Homo sapiens: one gene and its partners. The protein of the gene in region 1 interacts with the protein of each later gene in a pairwise test. Each region holds a gene or a part of one and is shown in the gene's direction. Other genes may lie near its edges.

What was found. The genes of interacting proteins can lie anywhere in the genome.
Region 2: the proteins of KIR2DL3 (region 1) and TRAF3IP3 interact in binary tests that used the Homo sapiens proteins (3 or more experiments, as listed by UniProt).
Region 3: the proteins of KIR2DL3 (region 1) and LEUTX interact in binary tests that used the Homo sapiens proteins (3 or more experiments, as listed by UniProt).

What each region holds. Positions count from the first base shown.
Region 1 is NC_000019.10:54,747,927-54,754,305, forward strand, and holds the end of KIR2DL3 (killer cell immunoglobulin-like receptor 2DL3 precursor), read left to right. Parts: intron 1-3,722; coding exon 3,723-3,827; intron 3,828-4,289; coding exon 4,290-4,342; intron 4,343-4,440; coding exon 4,441-4,593; 3' UTR 4,594-5,126; downstream 5,127-6,379. UniProt on the Homo sapiens protein: Receptor on natural killer (NK) cells for HLA-C alleles (HLA-Cw1, HLA-Cw3 and HLA-Cw7). Inhibits the activity of NK cells thus preventing cell lysis.
Region 2 is NC_000001.11:209,772,417-209,780,755, forward strand, and holds part of TRAF3IP3 (TRAF3-interacting JNK-activating modulator), read left to right. Parts: intron 1-531; coding exon 532-603; intron 604-2,873; coding exon of another isoform or gene 2,874-2,932; coding exon 2,933-3,073; intron 3,074-3,157; coding exon of another isoform or gene 3,158-3,172; exon of another isoform or gene 3,173-3,182; coding exon 3,183-3,320; coding exon of another isoform or gene 3,321-3,708; intron 3,709-4,935; coding exon 4,936-5,071; intron 5,072-5,694; coding exon 5,695-5,757; intron 5,758-6,791; exon of another isoform or gene 6,792-6,898; coding exon 6,899-6,958; coding exon of another isoform or gene 6,959-6,987; exon of another isoform or gene 6,988-7,014; coding exon of another isoform or gene 7,015-7,037; exon of another isoform or gene 7,038-8,053; coding exon 8,054-8,190; exon of another isoform or gene 8,191-8,339. UniProt on the Homo sapiens protein: Adapter protein that plays essential roles in both innate and adaptive immunity. Plays a crucial role in the regulation of thymocyte development.
Region 3 is NC_000019.10:39,781,218-39,787,494, forward strand, and holds the end of LEUTX (paired-like homeodomain transcription factor LEUTX), read left to right. Parts: intron 1-3,309; coding exon 3,310-3,461; intron 3,462-4,480; coding exon 4,481-4,918; 3' UTR 4,919-5,074; downstream 5,075-6,277.

The sequences.
Region 1 (6,379 bases):
TGTTGCCATAACAAATTTCCACAAGATTCGTGGGTGAAAACAAAACGGTTTTTTAATTATCTTACAGTGCTGTAGCTCAAAGTAGGAAGTGCATCTTACTGGGCTAAAATCAAGGTGACAGCAAGGCTGCCTTCCCTCTGAGGATTCCAGGCAAGAATCTGCTTCTCACTTATCCCAGCTTCTAAAGGCTCCCAGTTCCTTGGCTCCTGTTCCCCTTCCTCCTTCCTCAAAGCCCACAAAGACTGGTCACATCTCACATGGCATCACTCAGTGCCTTCTTCCTTACCACACCTCTTTCTCTGAATGCTGCTCTCCCTTCTTCCTTATCTTTTGAAAACTTGGGGATTCTATTGGGTTCACCAAGATGAAAATCCCTCATAATCTCCTGGAAATCATCCAGGATACCCTTGTTTTAAGTTCAGCTGATTAGCAACCGCAATTCCATCTACAATCTTCATTCCTCCTTTCCATGTAAAATAACATATTCACAAGCTATGGAGGCTAGGACAGGGACATTTTGGGGTGGGACAGCATTCTCCTGCCTTCCACAAACGGTGAACAAGATGCATTTGGCTTCTGCCCTTGGGACACTGATATTGCAGATGGTTAAATGGGAGGGCAGAAAATGAATGCACAAGTGGATCTATAAATGAATGATCCATTGGGAAGCATCTGTGCATGAAATCTATTTTTTGTTTGTTCTTTTGTTTATTGAGACAGAGTCGCCCTCTGTCTTCCAGGCTACAGTGCAGTGTCACGATCTTGGCTCACTGCAACCTGCGTCTCCTGGATTCAAGTGATTCTCCTGCCTCCGCCTCTCGAGTAGCTGGGATTACAGGCAACTGCCACCGTGCCCGGCTAATTCTTTTTGTATATTTTTTGTAGAGAGGATGTTTCACCACGTTGGCCAAGCTTGTCTGAAACTCCCAACCTCAAGTGATCCGACCGTCTCAGCATGCCAAAGTAATGGGACTACAGGCGTGAGCCACTGTGCCCAGCCAGAATTCAAAATCAATAATAGATAATGCTGAGTGTATGATTTCAGGTGACAAAGAAGGTCTCACTATTCAGATATTTGTGACATTAATGAAAAACACGGATTGAACCCCTGAAAGATTGGCGGAAGGATTTTGCACACACAGCTGTCAGCCGTGAAGGCACAAAGGTGAAAACAATCTGATGTGGAAGGAAGAGGCTCTGCCTCAAATGCTGGGAATGATGTGGGGAGAATGACAAGACGACTGTAGAGAGACGGAGAGCACACTGGGTACACAGGAAACTAAGGAGCAACAAGGAGTGTGTGTTTGACACTCACAGCCATTGGATTCACCTCGGGGTAACCAGGAATCCCTACATGATTAATATGACTGACATGAAAATAAGGGAGGCTCAGTTGCATAACTGGAATCTAGGAGACCGTGGAAAAGGCAATTGCCACCCCACTGGTGAAATGTGGTGCTGATTTAGACACTAAATGAATGAAGTAGATGGATATAAGATATGTTTGTGAGGTAGAATCATTGACTGGAAACGCTTACTGGGTTTGATTTTCCTACTTGTTTAATCCTCGCTTAATTAATTTCTTTCTGAGATTTATTCATCCTACACATAAATCAATACCTGGCAAAGGAGTGACAGATATATGAGTGGTGGTGGAAATGAAGAGACTTATTATAGCATAATATACAAGTCTGTGAACAGTGGCTCACGCCTGTAACCTAGCACTGCAGGAGGCCAAGGTGGGTGGATTCCATGAAGTCAGGAGTTCCAGACCAGCCTGGCCAACGTGGTGAAACCCTATCTCTACTAAAAATACAAAAATTAGCCGAGCACGATGGTGCATCCCTGTAATCCCAGCTCCTATTCTGGAGGATGAAGCAGGAGAATGACTTCAACCCAGTAGGTGGAGGTTGCAGTGAGTGGAGATTGCATCACTGCACTCCAGCCTGGGGGACACAAGGAGACTCTATCTCAAAAAATAAAAATAAGAAATACATAAATATAATAAAACACACACGAATGACAAAGGCACCTGAATTCCAATCATCGTTTTTCTATTTCTCTATAATTACTTCTTTGATCCTTTATCTTATCCATTAGGCAATGAGCTTAAAACCTCTTCCCTATTTGGCTTTCTGTGAGAATGAGATCACATAGAAAATGTGAAAGCCCTCAGAATCCTCCAGCACAGATCGTGGAATAGAGAAAGTGCTCTGTTCATCGCAACAAAAAACTTGCCCACTCACCCAAATCCCCCACCTCACCCCTACTTCCAATCACCTGTGGAGATTCAGATAGGCTATGGGGAGGTAAACATTGATACTCCTTGGAGTGAGTCCAGATCTTGGAATCAGAGATCAGTGCCAGCACTAGCTCCTGCTCCCCTTTCCTACTAATTCACAGGAGGACAGGTGGTATTGAAGCAATAGATGGCCGAGGGGGTGGTCCTTCCCCCAGCCTCTCGGGTAGAACAGCAGCCTAACATGTGTCTCCCGAGATCACAAAGAGTAGCACGTTTCACACGGGCTTCAACACTATTTCCTGGCCATTTGACATAAGAGAATTCTACTTAGCTTTTTTTATCTTGATTTCACTTTTGTTTCCTTTTCTTGGAGAATGCAAGTTGTTTGATTCAAGAATGCTGTGGATGTAGAAATCCTAAAGCACATTCGCTGTGTATCAATCCCAGTGCAGTCTTCCCAGAGAAGACTCTAAATACCTCCTGGACTGCACCTGGGCTTATGCCAATTCCTATCACTCACCGTCACTCCAGGGAGACAGAACACACAGAGAATACATTACACAGGCAGGTTCATTACTAACAGATAAGCAGCGAGTGACAACAGAAACCTACATTTCAATGTGAGCCAGTCCCTCAAGGCTCAGAAAAGCTACTCGGGACATATGGAGTCACCCCATTTGCAGTGTAGCTGGGGGAAGCCAGAGAGCAGCCCAGCCTGGGTTTTGTACTGTGGAGCCACAGGAAGCACTCAGCTAAAGCACTGCATGACGTCCTCCTCCAGGAAGAACAGGAAGACAGCCCAGGCTGTTCTGAGACGTTCCTCCTGATCTCAGGACGTTGCTGTCTTAGTCCATTTTTGTTGCTCTAAAGGAACACTTGAGCCTGGGTAACTTCTAGAGAAAAGAGATTGGTTTGCCTCACAGTTCTGCAGGCTGTACTGGAAGCGTGGCACCAGCATCTATTTCTCGTGACGGCCTCAGGCTGCTCCCACTCTGGCAGAAGGGAAGGAGGGTCTGTCTGTGCAGAGACCACAGAGATCACACGGCAAGAGAGGGAGCAAGGGGGAGGGGGAGCGATGGAGCTTCCAAGCTCTTTTGAACAACCAGCTCTCCAGGAACTAATAGAAGGGGAACTTGCTAACCCCGTCTCCTTGGGACAGCATTGGTCTGTTCATGATGGATCCACCTCCATGACCCAAACACCTCTCAAGAGGCCCAACCTCCCACAGTGGGGGTGAAATTTCAATGTGAGGTTTGAAGGGGTCAAACATCTCAACTAAAGTAGTTGTATCCTCAACACGTTCTATGGTTACTATGAGAGCTATAACTGAGAAAGCAGGAGAAAGCTGGGTCTCCCTCCATCTGGGTGCTTGTCCTAAAGGGGTGTTGTATGTGGTTACCTGTCAATCAAGAAATGTGAGACAATTCATAAAGAGGAACTGCTATGATTAGCTTCTTATTGGTGTCTCCTCTTCTTCCAGGTAACCCCAGACACCTGCATGTTCTGATTGGGACCTCAGTGGTCATCATCCTCTTCATCCTCCTCCTCTTCTTTCTCCTTCATCGCTGGTGCTGCAACAAAAAAAGTAAGTCTCACGAAGCAGAGGCCAGAGAGCTCAGGGCCATGTGGGGAAGCAGGATGGGAGCACTCAGGTGTGTGTTCCTCACAGACAGGATGGTCCCTGGCCCAAGGCAGCAGCCACAGAGGGAGGACTTTCTAGAGAGAGCACCAGACTCCCTGTCCCTGCCTTCAGCTCACAGACCATTGCCTGATTCTGAACTGTATCCTCATGTCCCCTGCAGCCACTCACATCCAGGAGAAGGTTCCATGACAGGCAGAAAGTGGGAGACAGAATCAATGGGATGGGAACTCAGAGCTATTCATGGGATGGGTCCTTGAGCTCAGAGAGATAGAATGTCTGAGTCTGCTGTTGGCAACTGAGGGACCTCAGGCTCCTATGGTCTCCCCCTGTATGTTGGTATCTGCTTATGAAATGAGGGCCCAGAAGTGCCCTCTGAGCTGTTTTGTTGACTTCCGTCTTCTACAGATGCTGTTGTAATGGACCAAGAGCCTGCAGGGAACAGAACAGTGAACAGGGAGGTAGGTGCTCCTCGGCCCAGCCTCGTGGCTAGTGTTATTCCCAAAGAGTCCTGGAAAATGTGAGCACCCTCCCTCACTCAGCATTTCCCTCTCTCCAGGACTCTGATGAACAAGACCCTCAGGAGGTGACATATGCACAGTTGAATCACTGCGTTTTCACACAGAGAAAAATCACTCGCCCTTCTCAGAGGCCCAAGACACCCCCAACAGATATCATCGTGTACACGGAACTTCCAAATGCTGAGCCCTGATCCAAAGTTGTCTCCTGCCCATGAGCACCACAGTCAGGCCTTGAGGGGATCTTCTAGGGAGACAACAGCCCTGTCTCAAAACTGGGTTGCCAGCTCCAATGTACCAGCAGCTGGAATCTGAAGGCGTGAGTCTGCATCTTAGGGCATCGCTCTTCCTCACACCACAAATCTGAACGTGCCTCTCCCTTGCTTACAAATGTCTAAGGTCCCCACTGCCTGCTGGAGAGAAAACACACTCCTTTGCTTAGCCCACAATTCTCCATTTCACTTGACCCCTGCCCACCTCTCCAACCTAACTGGCTTACTTCCTAGTCTACTTGAGGCTGCAATCACACTGAGGAACTCACAATTCCAAACATACAAGAGGCTCCCTCTTAACACGGCACTTAGACACGTGCTGTTCCACCTTCCCTCATGCTGTTCCACCTCCCCTCAGACTAGCTTTCAGCCTTCTGTCAGCAGTAAAACTTATATATTTTTTAAAATAATTTCAATGTAGTTTTCCCTCCTTCAAATAAACATGTCTGCCCTCATGGTTTAGGTAATGGGACTCTTTTCTTGCCTAAGGCTTCCGGTGTTATCAGTACCATGTCCATATAATCCCATCTGTTCTCCACCGGGTTCTCACCTCTGGACTCTGAGCTTCTGGAAGCAGTGTGGAGCCTCATTTGTCTCTGGGACTCCAATTTCCATCCAAAGATGCAGCACATAGGAGGTTCCAAGGATCGGGAATCACATGAACAAGTGACATTGTTACTCTCTGCAGACCTGGAAAGCTGGCAGAGTCATTCCACGATGAAACATTTGTAGAGTCATAGGCCTTGTTAGTCTCATCTCCATGGGGACACATATCAACACATCATCTTTCATACTATAAATATACGGTCACTCCTCCGTATCTGTGGGGTTTACAGGTCTTTATTGAACAAAGTATAAATCAAAAATATTCAGAGAAAATATCCACAGAGTTCCAAAACTCATAACTATGTTGAATGGACACAAATGAAGCTGTGTGTAGGCTGTATCAGGAATTATAAGTAATCAAGAGATGATTTCATGTATACAGGAGGATGTGCATATGTTATTTGCAAGCGCTGTGCCATTTCATATAAGAGGCTTGAGCATCTACAGATTTTGGTATCTGAGTGGAGATCTCGAAACCAATCACCCACGAATAGTGAAGGATGACCGTATATGACTTTTATTTCTCAAATTTAAATATAAATCAAAAAATGTACAACTAGATAAAAACTAAGAAGTGTTTTTATAGTGTGAGTTAGATTTATTTTTTACTAGGTGTAACCCATTGGTTTAATATTATTTATTGAGAAGACATTCTATGCCACCTTAAACCACACGGCAGCCTTTGTCAACTCTAAAGGGACTGTGTGTACATGGATGTATTTTAGACAGTTTCTGCTAAGGGGCTGTCTGTGTCCACACACTTGATGATGCTACACTTTATGTAGCCTTATAGAACCCTTTAAATTTAGTAGCCAGAGCCCTCTAATTTGTTATTATAGGCTATTTGCTTTTTTTTTTCTTGAGGCGGAGTCTTGCTCTGTCGCCCAGGCTGGACTGCAGTGACACAATCTCAGCTCACTGCAACCTCCGCCTCCCAGGTTCAAGCGATTCTCGTGCCTCAGCCTCTTGAGTAGCTGGCGTTACAGGTGCCTGCCACCAGGCATGGCTAATTTTTGGATTTTTAGCAGAGACACGGTTTCACTATGTTGGCCAGGCTGCTCTCAATCCCCTCATCTCAGTTGATCCGCCCACCTCGGCTTCC
Region 2 (8,339 bases), on another chromosome or scaffold:
ATGGTCACATTCTGGGGCACTCGGGGCTTAGGACTTCAACATAGAAATGTTGAGGAGATATAAATGAGCTCATAACCGAGGGCAAGGGAGGGAATAAACATTCTCCCGGGAGGGGAGACTGCGTTAGCCTCACTGGCCTACATTTTACAGGGAAAAGTCCACGTACAAGACTGAGAAGAGGTGAGGAGTGCAGAAGTGCCTAGACAGGGGAGGGAGATAGTGAGCGAAAGGGTAGCTTAGAAGCTTTCCTTCCGGGGCCCCCCTGCTATGCTACCCTGAGCCATTTGATAAAAATCGAGGTAAAAAGAGGACTTGAGGCCAGTCTTATTCTTTCTTGTCCTAGTCCAGAGAAACAGGAGAAGATCCTCTTCTATCCAGCATCCTTTGTCATCTTTGCTCCTGCCTGCCTCCTGAAAGAGTTCACTGTTTGAGCACCAACCATGTGCTGGGCAGTAGAATAGGAATATAGAGTCAAACTCTTTGCAGACTAGATTTTGCCCCAAGCTCATTAACTCATCCCATTTGCTCCAGGGACAGCTTAATGAAGACAAACTGAAGGGGAAACTGAGATCCTTAGAAAACCAGCTATACACCTGTACCCAGGTAAGCATTCTGAAGGATACTTCCATCTCAGGAATCTAGAATTAAATGAGAAGAATGTTTTTGAACCTCAATCTTACTTTCGAGAAACACCACCAGATAGAGAATAACACACCCATTCCTACTTACCCATTTCTGGCTTGGCCATTTACACTTTAGTCTCTAATTCACTAGATCACTGTCTCCATCCTTCTTCCTCTCCCTTTCTCCCAGTATCCTTCTCTTTGCACCCTGGAGGAATCCCAGCACTAACCAGTTTGTCAGCTCCAGGGGAACCTTGAGAATACCTGACACTGTAGGGGAAGGCCCTTGGTAAAGACTCACATCACCCAGACAGCCCTTTACGCATCCTAATCTTTGAACAGATGAGTTAGATGTTATAATGAAGTCTTACAAAATTATTTTCATTCCATGGGTAACTTTTTTCTGTTTTTTCTAGCAACCCCTGGAAGAATGTAAAAGCTCTTTTACTTGGCTCTTCTGTAACACCATTTTCCAGCATTAGTAATCTCTTGATTGGCCTAATCTTGGTTTATAAGAGATAGAAAGAAATCAGCTTTCACATTTGAGAAGTGATGGATACCTGACAGGTGGGAAGATATCAAATCAGAGAATGGGGTGAAACAGGCAGAATTCTCCCATCTGGAGTTAGAGAGAGAAGACAGTCCTGGCCACATTGATGGCGTCTTACAGGGGAAGAGAGTTTATGGAGTCTATAAGTTTCTTGGTCCACAACTTTCATTTTTTCAGTATAACTTGCTTTGTCAGGACTAAATAATGCCAACCAAGTTCACAGGAGACTAATATATAATCCAGAATGCCAGTCTATTCATTTTCAATAGGGAATAACACATAACCAGTGCCCAGCATGGATGGTCATTGGATGTCCAATAACTGGGACATCCCCTACATATGACCTCAACCAGGTTAATTCCTGGATCTGGTTTTTAATGAAAGTTCCAAAACTATAAGACCCACTCAAATTTAAATCCAAAATTTCAGACAATTCCAAAGCTAAATGGAAATGATTTCATATTGATCCCTAAATTGTTGTCATCTGGTCTACTGCTTACACAGTAGGTAATCCAGAATTGACAATAAAATCTGCCTGCCTTCTCCGAAATCACAGGGCATAAAGATGAAAGAAAGGGAGAAGGCAAGACCCCCAGTGAATTTGCAAAGCTGCGCTTGTGTCTCCTTAATCCTGCAGCCAGGAGGAATTTTATAATGCAAATGTATTAATTTTAAAACATGAAGTTCATTAGGCATTGTAAAGAAGCTACAATGATTTTTTTTTAAAGCAGCAGCAGTATGCTCCCTCCCTGAAGGAGTTTACAATCCAGTATGAAAGACAGATGAGTCAATAGAGTAGAATAATAGAGGCATGCAGGGGATACTATGTGAACACCATGAACCCTAAGAAAAGCTACCTAATCCATAAGACATTGTGGGATGGGGGTAGTTGGTCAATTTATCAGAACTGATGATACTGGACTGAATCTTGAGTATTAGTAGAAGTTAACTGGCTGTAGGCAGAAGAAGCTACATGGGTAAAGGCAGAGCCCCAAAAAACAGAGTGCTGGGGGATCTGCAAACATCTCAGCTTAGGTGGAAGTAGCATGGGATGAAAGTCTAGGCGTGTAAGAGGAGCCATGACAAGGAGTTTGGATGTGATTCTTAGTATGCTGAGAATCCATGGAGAGATTTATACAGGAAGTGGCAAGATCAGATTTGCATTTTAGAAAGAACCCTCTAAATGCAGAACTGAAAAGGGACTGAAGGGAGGCAAGATTTGAAGAAAGGGAGGCTGTTGCATTAATCCACATAACACTACTACTAGAGCCTGAACTAAGGAAGCAGCAGTAGGGATAGAGAGGAGACAGATATGAGCTGTTAAGGAAATTGTCAAGGCTCAATGACCAACTGATTAGAGGGGGAGGAAGTGAGAGAGAAAATGAAGATTGACTCCCTGGTTTAGGGTTTGGAAAAGCCTGGATGGATGATGATTCTGGTCACTGAGATAGGAACCCCAAGAAAAAAGAACATGTTTAGAAAGATGAGTCCTGTTTAGACATCTTGGATTCCAAGAGCTTGCAGAAGGCCTCAGATATAATGCCCAGGAAGCCTAGGGCACTGTTTATTATGCCCTCCACTCATCTCTCATTGCCTGAGGGACTCTTCTTGCTAGCTCTACCCTAAAAGAAATGGCTCACTAGATTACTGGTATCTCTGCCTGGGGGAAGAACCAACTTCTTTTCATTTCTGTATCCCAGCTCAGGATTTGGCACACAGAAGCTCAATGTGTATTTGTTGAATTGCATCAAATTTACAGAAATACTCCCCTTGGGGAATGAAAAAAGTACTACTGGAGATGGAAGACCAGAAAAACAGCTATGAGCAGAAGGCCAAGGAGTCACTGCAGAAAGTGCTGGAGGAGAAAATGAATGCAGAGCAGCAACTACAGAGCACACAGGTATGGGGATGCCACATAGACATGGGGCTGGGGACTCCAGGCAGCTTGGGGAACAAGGGGAGCCAGCTGCACAACTCCCTGGAGCCCTCTCCTCTCTGATCTCCCTCAGCGATCCCTGGCCCTGGCAGAGCAGAAGTGTGAAGAGTGGAGGAGCCAGTATGAGGCTCTGAAGGAGGACTGGAGGACCCTTGGGACCCAGCACAGGGAGCTGGAGAGCCAACTCCACGTGCTTCAGTCCAAACTGCAGGTACCAGGCACTGGGGGTGGGGAGGGAAGACAGGGTATGGGGAGGAGGGATGGTGATGAAAGAAGCTGTTCTGGATTAGGGACTCCAAAGGCAGCTGACAGCATCTGGCTTTCAGTTCCTCAGTCACCACTACTTTGTACCAAATTCACTGTTTTGGCTCTGAAATCTAATTTTGAGTTTAGCAAGGATGTCTGCATTGCTCATGCAAATGAACTAAGCGTTCATTGGAATGACACCATCACCACCCAAATGAAAAGAACTGGCTGGAATATTCATCAGCCTACTAATGTCATCTCCCAACCCACTCTCCAAACTCCATCCCAAAAAAGCATCCAGTTCAGAATTGCCCACTGTTGGCAAAGAAAGAATGTCACTAATTTATTTACAGGTGAGTATTAACACTTTCTGCCAATGTGTATTTTAAGCAATTACATTTAGCAATTACAATTAGATTCTTGGCATCCTCAAGGGTTCCATCATCTTCAATCTGTCCTAAGCCTCAGTTTCCCCATCTCTAAAATGAGGATAATAGTACCTACATCATAAGGTGGTTCTGAGTATTAAGTAAGATGATCCATGTAAAGCACTTAGCACAATGCCTGGCACACAAAAACACTCAGTAAATATTAGCTATTATTTTGCATAGATTTATTTACCTGGTTTGGAATTTTGAGGATCCACCTCAAAAGCTGATCTTTGTAATTTTCCTGAAGCAGGGCTCAGAACAGCCCACTTGATAAGAGACAGAGTATGTGAGTCTTATCAAAGGAGTGAACCCAGCTGGTCACTCTGCGTGGTATCCACAGCTCAACCTTTGTTGTTTTCTTCTTCCCATCACCTATAAGGCAACTCCTATGAAGATTTTTGTGAGGGGTTTTTTAACTTTAAATCTTTGTGGAAAAAAAAAGACCCTAACCAAAAAAAAAACTGATACTGCCAGAAGTAGAAAAAAGAGAAAATGAAAACATCCAGAAAACTAATGACTTTGTATTCCTTAATTTGGTGATTTACCAAAGTGTCAAGACATGACTCCCACACCAATGACAACCACTTACATTTCCCCTAGAATGGCAGATTTTTTAACGTACTGGGTTTCCTAAAGCAATTCTTATTTTATATATTCTAATTTATGTACATGAATGTGTCACTTAGACCTGTCACTAGGGATGGTTTAGAAAATAAACTTACACTGCACATGCCTCAGTCCACTTCAAAACTACTGGCAAATGCCTGTAGTCCCAGCTACTCAGAAGGCTAAGATGGGAGGATTGCTTGAGCCCAAGAGGTCGAGGCTGCAATGTGCTATGATGGCACCACTGCACTCCAGTCTGGGTGACAAAGTGAGACCCCATCTCTAAAAATAAAAATAAATAAATAAAAGACGCGAGTTCCTTGTGAATATCAAAAGTCTAATCTGCTGTTATAAATATGAGGAACAAAGCAAAGGGAAGAAATAGGAAAAAAGAAAGACTTCTCTATTTTCTCATCTCCCTAACATTCCTTCTATCTCTAAAATTCCAGACTTTTCTACATTTTCCTCTTCCATGGTACCCGCCCCCCAACCTCCACCCCAACACTGACCTCCTTCTATATTGGCCCTTCCTCCTCCTTACAGGGAGCAGATAGCAGGGACTTACAGATGAACCAGGCCCTGCGATTTTTGGAAAATGAGCACCAGCAACTGCAGGCCAAGATTGAATGCCTGCAAGGGGACAGAGACCTGTGCAGCTTGGATACCCAGGACCTACAAGGTACTCTTCTCCTTGGAGGCCTTGAGTGCATGGCAGCCATGGCCAAGTGAGCTAAGAAAAAAGAAACTGAATTAAGAGAAAGGCTTCAGCCTTTTATTTGTTTGCTTGATTGGTTGATTGGCTTTATAATCTCATTTTACCTTGAGGGAGAGGCAGGACTGTTTTAATCATCCAAAATTGAAAATTAATTTCACTGTAGTAGATAGAGTATCTTGTTGTCTGAGCTCTCTTTTTTAGCCCATCCCTCTGGGCCAGATCACAGCTGCTCCCACATCAGTCACATATGTCAAGGCCACAGTCCTAATTTGAAAGGGAAAGGTCAGTTGAAACACAAGGCATAGAGAAAGTCTCTCAGTCACATCCTCTGTGTCCGCTGATAGAGAGGACTAGATAGTGTGTAAACACAAGCCTCAATGCAACCCAACATTGTTGATGCACAAAAACCTGAGGTACTTGGCTTCTGGTTTACCTCTTCAGAACTGGGACACGAAGATAGAGCAACTTCCAATAGACACACGTTAAAGACCATGACAAGACAGCATCTATTACTAATTTCCATCCTAAGTACTGAGTTCATTAAGTCTTGGGTTCCTTTATTTTGGCTTGCATTATTGCATTTTCAGATCAACTAAAAAGGTCAGAGGCAGAGAAACTCACCCTGGTGACCAGAGTACAGCAGTTGCAGGGTAAGTTCGCTTTCCAGATTCTGAAAGTCCACAGGGTTTTCCTGGGGTCCTGGCCCACAAAAGGCACCCAGAGTAGGGACTAAGGGCCCAGTCTTTGGCATATGCTCTAACTCTGTGCACTTTCAGACCCTCTTCTTGTAAAGTGAGGTCATTTACATAGCTCTCCATAAATTATGTGTTAGCCTCTGTTCTTTTTTTTCTACTGTTCTCCTTCCATGCCAATGACACCACTTACATTTCCCCTAGAACTGCAGATTTTTTTTAAATACTGGGTTTCCTAAAGCAGTTCTTATTTTATATATTCTAATTTATGTACATGAATGTGTCACATAGACCTGTCATTAGAGATGGTTTAGAAAATAAGCTTACACTATACGTGCCTCAATCCACTTCAAAACTACATATTGGGCCCAAAGAGGAAAAGGGACTTCTCAGAAGAAAAGCAGTTTCTGAAAAGCTGGAGAACCTGACTCAATTAATACAGCTGCTGGTTGCCCACCACTTTAACCTCTGACACCTGATAGAGAAGCTTCATGAAAGCAGCAATGATTATTAAGAGAGCAAAGCAACCACAGGGAAAAGGGAAAATCTTCAAGCAAAGACTTGAAGATAGAGACATGGTAGGGGGAGATATAAGGATGCTATATTCATAGCAAAGTACCACAGACTGGGTGCCTTGAAGAACAGAAATGTATTGTCTCACAGTTCTGGAGACTAGAAATCCAAGATGTCAGCAGGGTTGTTTCCTTCTGAGGGCGTTTAGGGAAAGATCTATCCCAGGGCTCTTTCCTTGGCTTTGTAGATGGCCGTCTTCTCTCTGTGTCTCTTCACATTGTCTTTCCCATGAACATATCTGTGTCCATATTTCCCCTTCTTATAAGGACACCAGTGATATTAGATTGGGGCCCACCTGAATGACCCCATTTTAACTTGATTATCTTTTAAAGAATCTATCTCCAAATAAGGTCATTATTTAAGGTACTGAGGGTTAGGACTTCAACATATATATTCTGGGGGACAAAATTCAACACACAGCAGATGGGAACATATTTAATAACCAAGGTTCTAAGCAAAGTTCTGAAAAGAAAACTTTTTGTAGTAAATATGCTAGCATAGACAAGTTCCTTGTGTTTTCCAACAGGTTTGCTTCAAAATCAATCCTTACAGCTTCAAGAACAGGAGAAACTCTTAACAAAGAAAGGTCAGCAAATTTATTACCACAAATTCTAAGATATTGCTCTTCTCTTACCTGCCTAGAGGCAGCGGGATGGACTACATGACCTCCTGGAGTCCCAGCCAGTTCTGGGAGTCTGTTAAGTCCGGGATGTGTGGGAGCTTTTTAAGGACTGATCATTGGCTCTGAGGACACTTCAACTAGTTAGCCTTCTATCTTGAGGTATATAAACTGTGAAAAAGGGTTTCTATTCTCTCTGAAAGCACATGTCTGTGTTGAACATTTCAATAAATTTATTTTGAACTCAGGATTTCATGTCAATTTTTACACACTTGATTTTCCAAATCACATCCAACTCCCCAGCCCCAAACCACATAGCAGTCCAGAGTCAACTCACTGTTAGCCCTAGAGAGTCTACTGTCCATGTTTCCTGAGAATTCACTGTGTATACAGAGGGGCAATAGCTCCTCACCTGTCCACTACACACGACCTTTTGTTTTCTCTTCACAATCATTGGGCATAATATAATAGATAAGGCAGAAATTTTTATGCTCACAGAGTATGGATAAGAACATGAAAGTCTATGGTGACACAAACTAACAACACAGCTATAACAACAATCCAAAACTTCTGACTCCTAGTCCATGCTCTTTTCACCAAGACTAAGACTGCAGGGTGGCTAAAAAACCATCTTTAACCATATGAAGATAAATTTTAGGATATGACTGCCATCTTCACAACTTTCAAATGAGGACATCAGGGAAAAGGGATTGTATTAAAGCATTTACCAAACTTATTTGACAAACTAGGAAGAATGTGACATACAACCAATGAAATTCAATTAAGAAGTATTCACTAAAACTATCTAGCACTAGATAAGACTGGGGATACAAAGAAAAGATCCCAATCTTGCCCTCAAGGAGCTCAGATTCCAGCTGTCTGTCCAAGCTTAGCAGGGGCCTACTGGAAGTTAACCTTTATGTCAGAGAATGCCATCAGTCTAGCCAAGAGCACGCCCTCCCAAGTTCCCTCCCCTCTCCCCACTCCTAGTGGTTTCACCCTCAGGGCCCTTCCTCAGAGGTGTGGGCCTCACTGTCACCAAGAATCTGGCTGCTTTTTTAGATCAGGCTTTGCCCGTGTGGAGTCCAAAGTCCTTCCCTAACGAAGTGGAGCCTGAGGGTACAGGGAAGGAGAAAGACTGGGATCTCAGAGACCAGCTGCAAAAGAAGACTTTGCAGCTCCAGGCCAAGGAAAAGGAGGTGAGAGGGTGACCTGAGATAGTGAGGGCTCATTTGCGAAATAGCAGAGAAACCTGGGAGGCAGTCAAAAAGCAGGGATTTCAAAGTTTAAGTTGTGAGTGGATAACCACAGACATTCATTTGCCTACATAAAGTGTCTGTGCTTTTGG
Region 3 (6,277 bases), about 15 Mb from region 1:
AAACCCATGTGCCCGATCACTTGTCTTCACTGTGCGATAATTGGGCAGCATGTTGGCTTCTGTTTTTCCATGTATTTGCATGAGGAATAAGAGCATCCTGAAAATAGAAACTTTCCTATAAAATAGATGACCATGAGAATCAGGTTTTACTAGATGATGAGGTCTTATTTATATTCTAAACCATAGTAAAAACTCCCATTATGCACTAATACAGTTTGCATATTTGTCCCCTCCAAATCTCATGTTGAAATGTGATCCCCAGTGTTGGAGGTGGGCCTGGTGGAAGGGGTTTGGATCATGAGAGCAGATCCCTCTGAATGGCTTAGTGCCATCCTCATGGTAATGAGTGGGTTCTCTATCTCTAAGTTCACCTGAGATCTGGTTGTTTAAAAGAGTCTGGGACCTTCCCCTGCTGTCTCTTGCTCCCACTCTCACCATGTAACACCTTGGCTCCCCTTCGCCTTCTGTCATGAGTGGAAGCTTCCTAAGGCCCTCACCAGAAGCAGATGCCAGCACTATGCTTTGTGTATAGCCTGCAGAGCTGTGAACCAATTAATTCCTCTTTTCTAATTTACCCAGTTTTAGGTAATTCTTTATAAATGCAAAATGGACTAACACATGCACCAAGCCTGTAATTAACAGACTTGCTTCTTTGGTTACTCACATCTTCCCTAAAGGAGTGAGCTTTCTGGGACCATGTTATTGTTAAAGATACGGAGGCAAACAGTATAAGTGTACTGATGCTGCCAAAGTCACAGAGCTAGTAAATGAGAGAATCGACATTCATTCTTAGGTCACTAAGCTTCATATCTCCTTCCCTACAGACCCCATTAATAAATGGCCAAACCAATAGCTTCAGGGTCTCACAAGCCAATCAACATAGACAGCAGTGCCACTGAGTCTATGACCGGTTAGGATAATAGGGCCTCAAATACTCTTATGAATCTTATAGACTCATATAAACCTGGTGTCAACATCATGCCACTATTCTATTCTATCTCAATAAGGACTCACCCAAATCTCATCTTGAATTGTAGCTCCCATAATTCCCATGCGTTGTGGGAAGGATCCGGTGGGAGATAACTGAATCATGGGGCGGTTTCCCCCATACGGTGCTCATGGTAATGAATAAGTCTCATAAGATCTGATGGTTTTATAAGAGGTTTCCCCTTTTGCTTAGGTCTCATTCCCTCTCTTGCTTGCCACCACGTAAGATGTGGCTTTGCTCCTCCTTGCTTTCCACCATGATTGTGAGGCCTCCCCAGCCATGTGGAACTGTGAGTCCATTAAACTTCTTTCCTTTATAAATTACCCAGTTTCAGGTATGTCTTTATTAGCAGCATGAGAAACAGAAAGATGTCCCCAAGTTGCTAGGAAAACATATTGGTGCCCAATGTCATGGAGAGGTTGATGTTCCTCCTCCAGGGGCTGTAGGATGAGGCCACCAAAATAAGCTTATCCCATCTGTGGCTTAAAAACATGTCCTGCTCAGTGGAAGTTGGCACTGATTTTCTAGGAATGCAGAACACTCCCAGCAAGAGAGTGAGGAGTGGGTCTCGTGAGTCAAATGTTTAGCCTAAGCTCTTGATTCACAGGTCAAGCTTAGGAAAGAAGCTTACCTTTGGAATATACATATTTGCATTCTAATAAAACATTTTTAAATTTTTTTTTGTATTTTCGTAGGCTATTGGGGAACAAGTGGTGTTTGGTTACATGAGTAAGTTCTTTAGTGGTGATTTGTGAGATTTTGGTGCACCCACCAACCGAGCAGCATACACTGCACCATATTTGTAGTCTTTTATCCCTCACCCCCTTCCCACCCTTTCCCCCGAATCCCCAAAGTCCATTGTGTCATTCTTATGCCCTTACATCCTCATAGCTTAGCTCCCACTTATGAGTGTGAACATATGATGTTTGGTTTTCCATTCCTGAGTTACTTCACTTAGAATAATGGTCTCCAATCTAATCCAGGTTGTTACAAATATCATTAATTCATTTTTATGGCTGAGTGGCATTCCATCATATAATTTATATATATATAAATTATATATATATAAATTATAATATTTGTATTATATATAATTATATACAATATAATTTATATACATTATACATAAATTATTATATATATATACATATATATATATACACACACACACACACACACCACAGCTTATCCACTCAATTGATGGACATTTGGGTTGGTTCCACATTTTTACAATTGCGAATTGTACTGCTATAAACATACATGTGCAAGTATCTTTTTTGTATAATGACTTATTTTCCTCTGGGTAGATAGCCAGTAGTTGGATTGCTGGATCGAATGGTAGTTCTACTTATAGTTCTTGAAGGAATCTTTACACTGTTTTCCATAGTGGCTGTACTAGTTTACACTGCCACCAGCAGTGTAGAAGTGTTGCCTGTTCACTGCATCCACGCCAACATCTATTTTTTTTTATTTTTTTTATTATGGCCATTCTTGTGGTTTCGATTTGCATTTCCCTAATCATTTGTGATGTTGAGCATTTTTTCATGTTTGTTGGCCATTTGTATATCTTTTGAGAATTATCTATTCATGTCATTCATGTCCTTAGCCCACTTTTTGATGGAATTGTTTGGTTTTTTTCTTGCTAATTTGTTTGAGTTCGTTGCAGATTCTGGATATTAGTCATTTGTCAAATGTATAGATTGTGAAGATTTTCTTCTAGACTGTGGGTTGTCTAGAACTCTGCTGTTCCTTTTGCCATGCAAAATCTCTTTAGTTTAATAAAGTCCTAGCTATTTATCTTTGTTTTTATTGCATTTGCTTTTGGGTTCTTGGTCATTGTGTTGCTGTCTATCTCATTTCTTAGGTCTAGTGGATAAAAGGGCGTCCATTGTCTCCTAAAGTTTTTATTATTTTTTATTTATGCTCTCTATTTCACTGAAGATTTCTCCCCTCATTTCTTGTATCTTTTTTTTTAATTTCCTTAAATTGGGCTTCACTTTTCTCTGGTGCCTCCTTGATTAGCTTAATAACTGACCTTCAGAATTCTTTTTCAGGTATATCACGGATTTCTTCTTGGTTTGGATCCATTGCTGATGAACTAATGTGATTTTTTGGGGATGTTAAAGAACCTTGTGTTGTCATATTACCAGATTTGGTTTTCTGGTTCCTTCTCATTTGTGTAGGCTCTGTCAGAGGGACGGTCTAGGGCTCAAGGCTGTTGTTCAGATTCTTTTGTCCCACAGGTGTTCCCTTGATGTAGTACTCTCCTCATTTCCTTCCGAATTTTTTTAATGAAAGCCTTTTATCTGTTCCCTCTGCAGAAGGGCCAAGGCGTTATCGTCGGCCACGCACAAGATTTCTCTCCAAACAACTCACAGCATTGAGAGAATTGCTTGAAAAGACCATGCACCCAAGTTTGGCTACAATGGGGAAACTGGCTTCAAAGCTACAACTTGATCTATCCGTAGTAAAGGTCTGTTCCCAAGTGTGTCTGTAGGTAGCACGCCTAACCCAGAGCTTCACACACACTTTTGATCATTGTTATAACAGTTCCTATTTATTGGCAATTGCTATGTGTAAGGACAGATGTTAAGCACTTTATATTTTTATTGTCATGAGCACCCACTTTATTGAGGAACACTAAAGCTCACATAGAAGAGCTGTCTTCCAAGCATTATAAACACAAGAGTTGGAATTTGAACCCAGACCTTTCCAACTCCAGACCCACCATGCTACACAGGACTCTTTGAGGCTGGATCTCAGATACTCCCATTTGGGTCTGTTCTTGTGTATTCAGGATGGGTTCTGCTTAATCAGGACCATCACAGTCATCCAGATGCCTGTCACTAAGTTCCCACAAAGTATTCATGGGAGAACACCTGGATGAACCCTAAAGATGACCCAAGCTAAACTCTCACCCCATACTCTGACTTTAAAATACTTTCTCTGGGCACCAGGAATGGTGGCTCACACTTGTAATCCCAGCACTTTGGGAGGTGGAGGCAGGAGGATCGCTTAAGCCCAGTTTAAGACCAGCCTGGGCAACATAGCAAGACCATGTCTTTACAAACAAAAATTAAAAATTAACCAGACATGGAGGCACATGGCTGTAGTCCCAGCTACTTGGGAGACTGAGATAGGAGGATTGCTTAAGCCCAGGAGTTCAAGGCTGCAGCGAGCTATGATTGCAGCACTGCACTCCAGGCTGGGTGACAGAGTGGTAGCTTGTCTCAAAAAAAAAAAATACACCACTAATAAAAACACCCTTCTATTTAATACATCACAATCTAGGTCATATTCCACCCATTGCTAGTACAATCCTACACCCACTTTTCCCTTGAAACCCAGGACAGCAGAGAGTAGAAAGGGCTTCCCTTGTTCCAATAAATGTGAGACTCTCTCTCACACCAAAAAACCGAATTCCTGAGGAACATGAGGATGCCCCTTTATACTCAACATCCATTATTAACCTCCCCCCTCCTCCCTCCTTAGATCTGGTTCAAGAACCAGCGTGCCAAATGGAAGAGGCAGCAGCGGCAGCAAATGCAGACACGGCCATCACTAGGGCCAGCAAACCAGACAACTTCAGTGAAGAAGGAGGAGACTCCCTCAGCCATAACTACTGCAAACATTCGTCCAGTAAGTCCTGGAATCTCTGATGCAAATGACCATGATCTACGTGAGCCTTCTGGTATCAAGAATCCTGGAGGAGCCAGCGCCTCTGCGAGGGTTTCATCCTGGGATTCTCAGTCATATGACATTGAACAGATATGTCTGGGGGCTTCAAATCCTCCTTGGGCCTCCACTCTCTTTGAAATAGATGAATTTGTAAAGATCTATGACTTGCCAGGGGAAGATGACACCAGCAGCCTAAATCAATATCTTTTTCCAGTATGCCTTGAGTATGACCAGCTCCAATCTTCAGTGTAACTTCTTACACATCACTTCTAGGGGAGGTCTGGATCTGACCCACTGAGACATATTTCCACACATCTTTAATGGTTTGACCCCAGTCTAAGTAGATCAGGGGCTGGGAATTTATCTTTTTCTGTAGAAAAAACAATAAAGGAACTCCCCTACCTTTCATCATTGCCTGCATTTTCTGAACTCCATTTGAGTGCCTCCTCACCCAAATTTCAGCATTAAAGATTGTATTCAGAGAAGTGACGCCAGGAACACAGTGACATAGGAGGTTCCTGATTGATGGACTGAATAAACGTCTGTGCCTACATCAGTTCTCTCTGGAAGAAAGTCAGAAGTGAGTGGAGAGACTCCTACACACCAGGCAACTAAGAAAATGTCTTAGCAGGCCAGTCGCGGTGGCTCACGCCTGTAATTCCAGCACTTTGGGAGGCCAAGGTGGGTGGATCACGAGGTCAGGAGATCAAGACCATCCCGGCTAACATGGTGAAACGCTGTCTCTACTAAAAATACAAAAAATTAGCTGGGTGTGGTGGTGGGCACCTGTAGTCCCAGCTGCTTGGGAGGCTGAGGCAAGAGAATTGCTTGAACCCGGGAGGCGGAGGTTGCGTGAGCCAAGATTGCACCACTGCACTCCAGCCTGGGCGACAGAGTAAGACTCCATCTCAAAAAAAAAAAAAAAGAAAAGGAAGAAAAGACAAGAAAAAAAATGTCTTATCAAACAGGCAGCAAAAGCTGAAGCACTCAGAAACACTAAACCCACCCTGGGCACTGAGCCATACAATCAGGAAGGAATCCCCAGTTCCCAGCTTCTCCCCCAGGAGAGAAGCAGTGAACCACACATATAGCACCCTAACAGTTGATGGTTAAGTTCCTAACGAGCCTGCATCAGGGAGTTGACTAGGTAGGTAAACTACAGACTTACAAGAGCCTGAACAGAAGCTAGGTGCCACCCAAAGCTTCACCCCAGCTCAGCCCAGCAATAAATCCAGGTCTATCAATTCCTCCTGGAAGAAGTTTGTCCACACATTGAGCACCCCAACTTTTATACCTGCACTCAAGGGACTGCATCCTAAATCCCCTAGCTCTGGAAATGGAAGGGATTAGGCATATGTGAGTCTCCCTAGCTCACAGAGAAAAAGGTGGTTTTAAGCAGGCACACAAGCACTTCAGGGCTAGCCTTCCTCCACCACACTCCCCCAACCAGAGCAGTGCAGAGAAGGGGTCAAAATGTACAGCTCCCAGTTACTCCTCAAAAAGGATTTGCCAGCACACTCTTCCAGCTGCTGCTTGATAGTCATGCTTTTAACCAGCCTGTATCTGGAAGTCAACAGGGCAGACAAATGCTGGATCCTTGGGAGCCTGAAT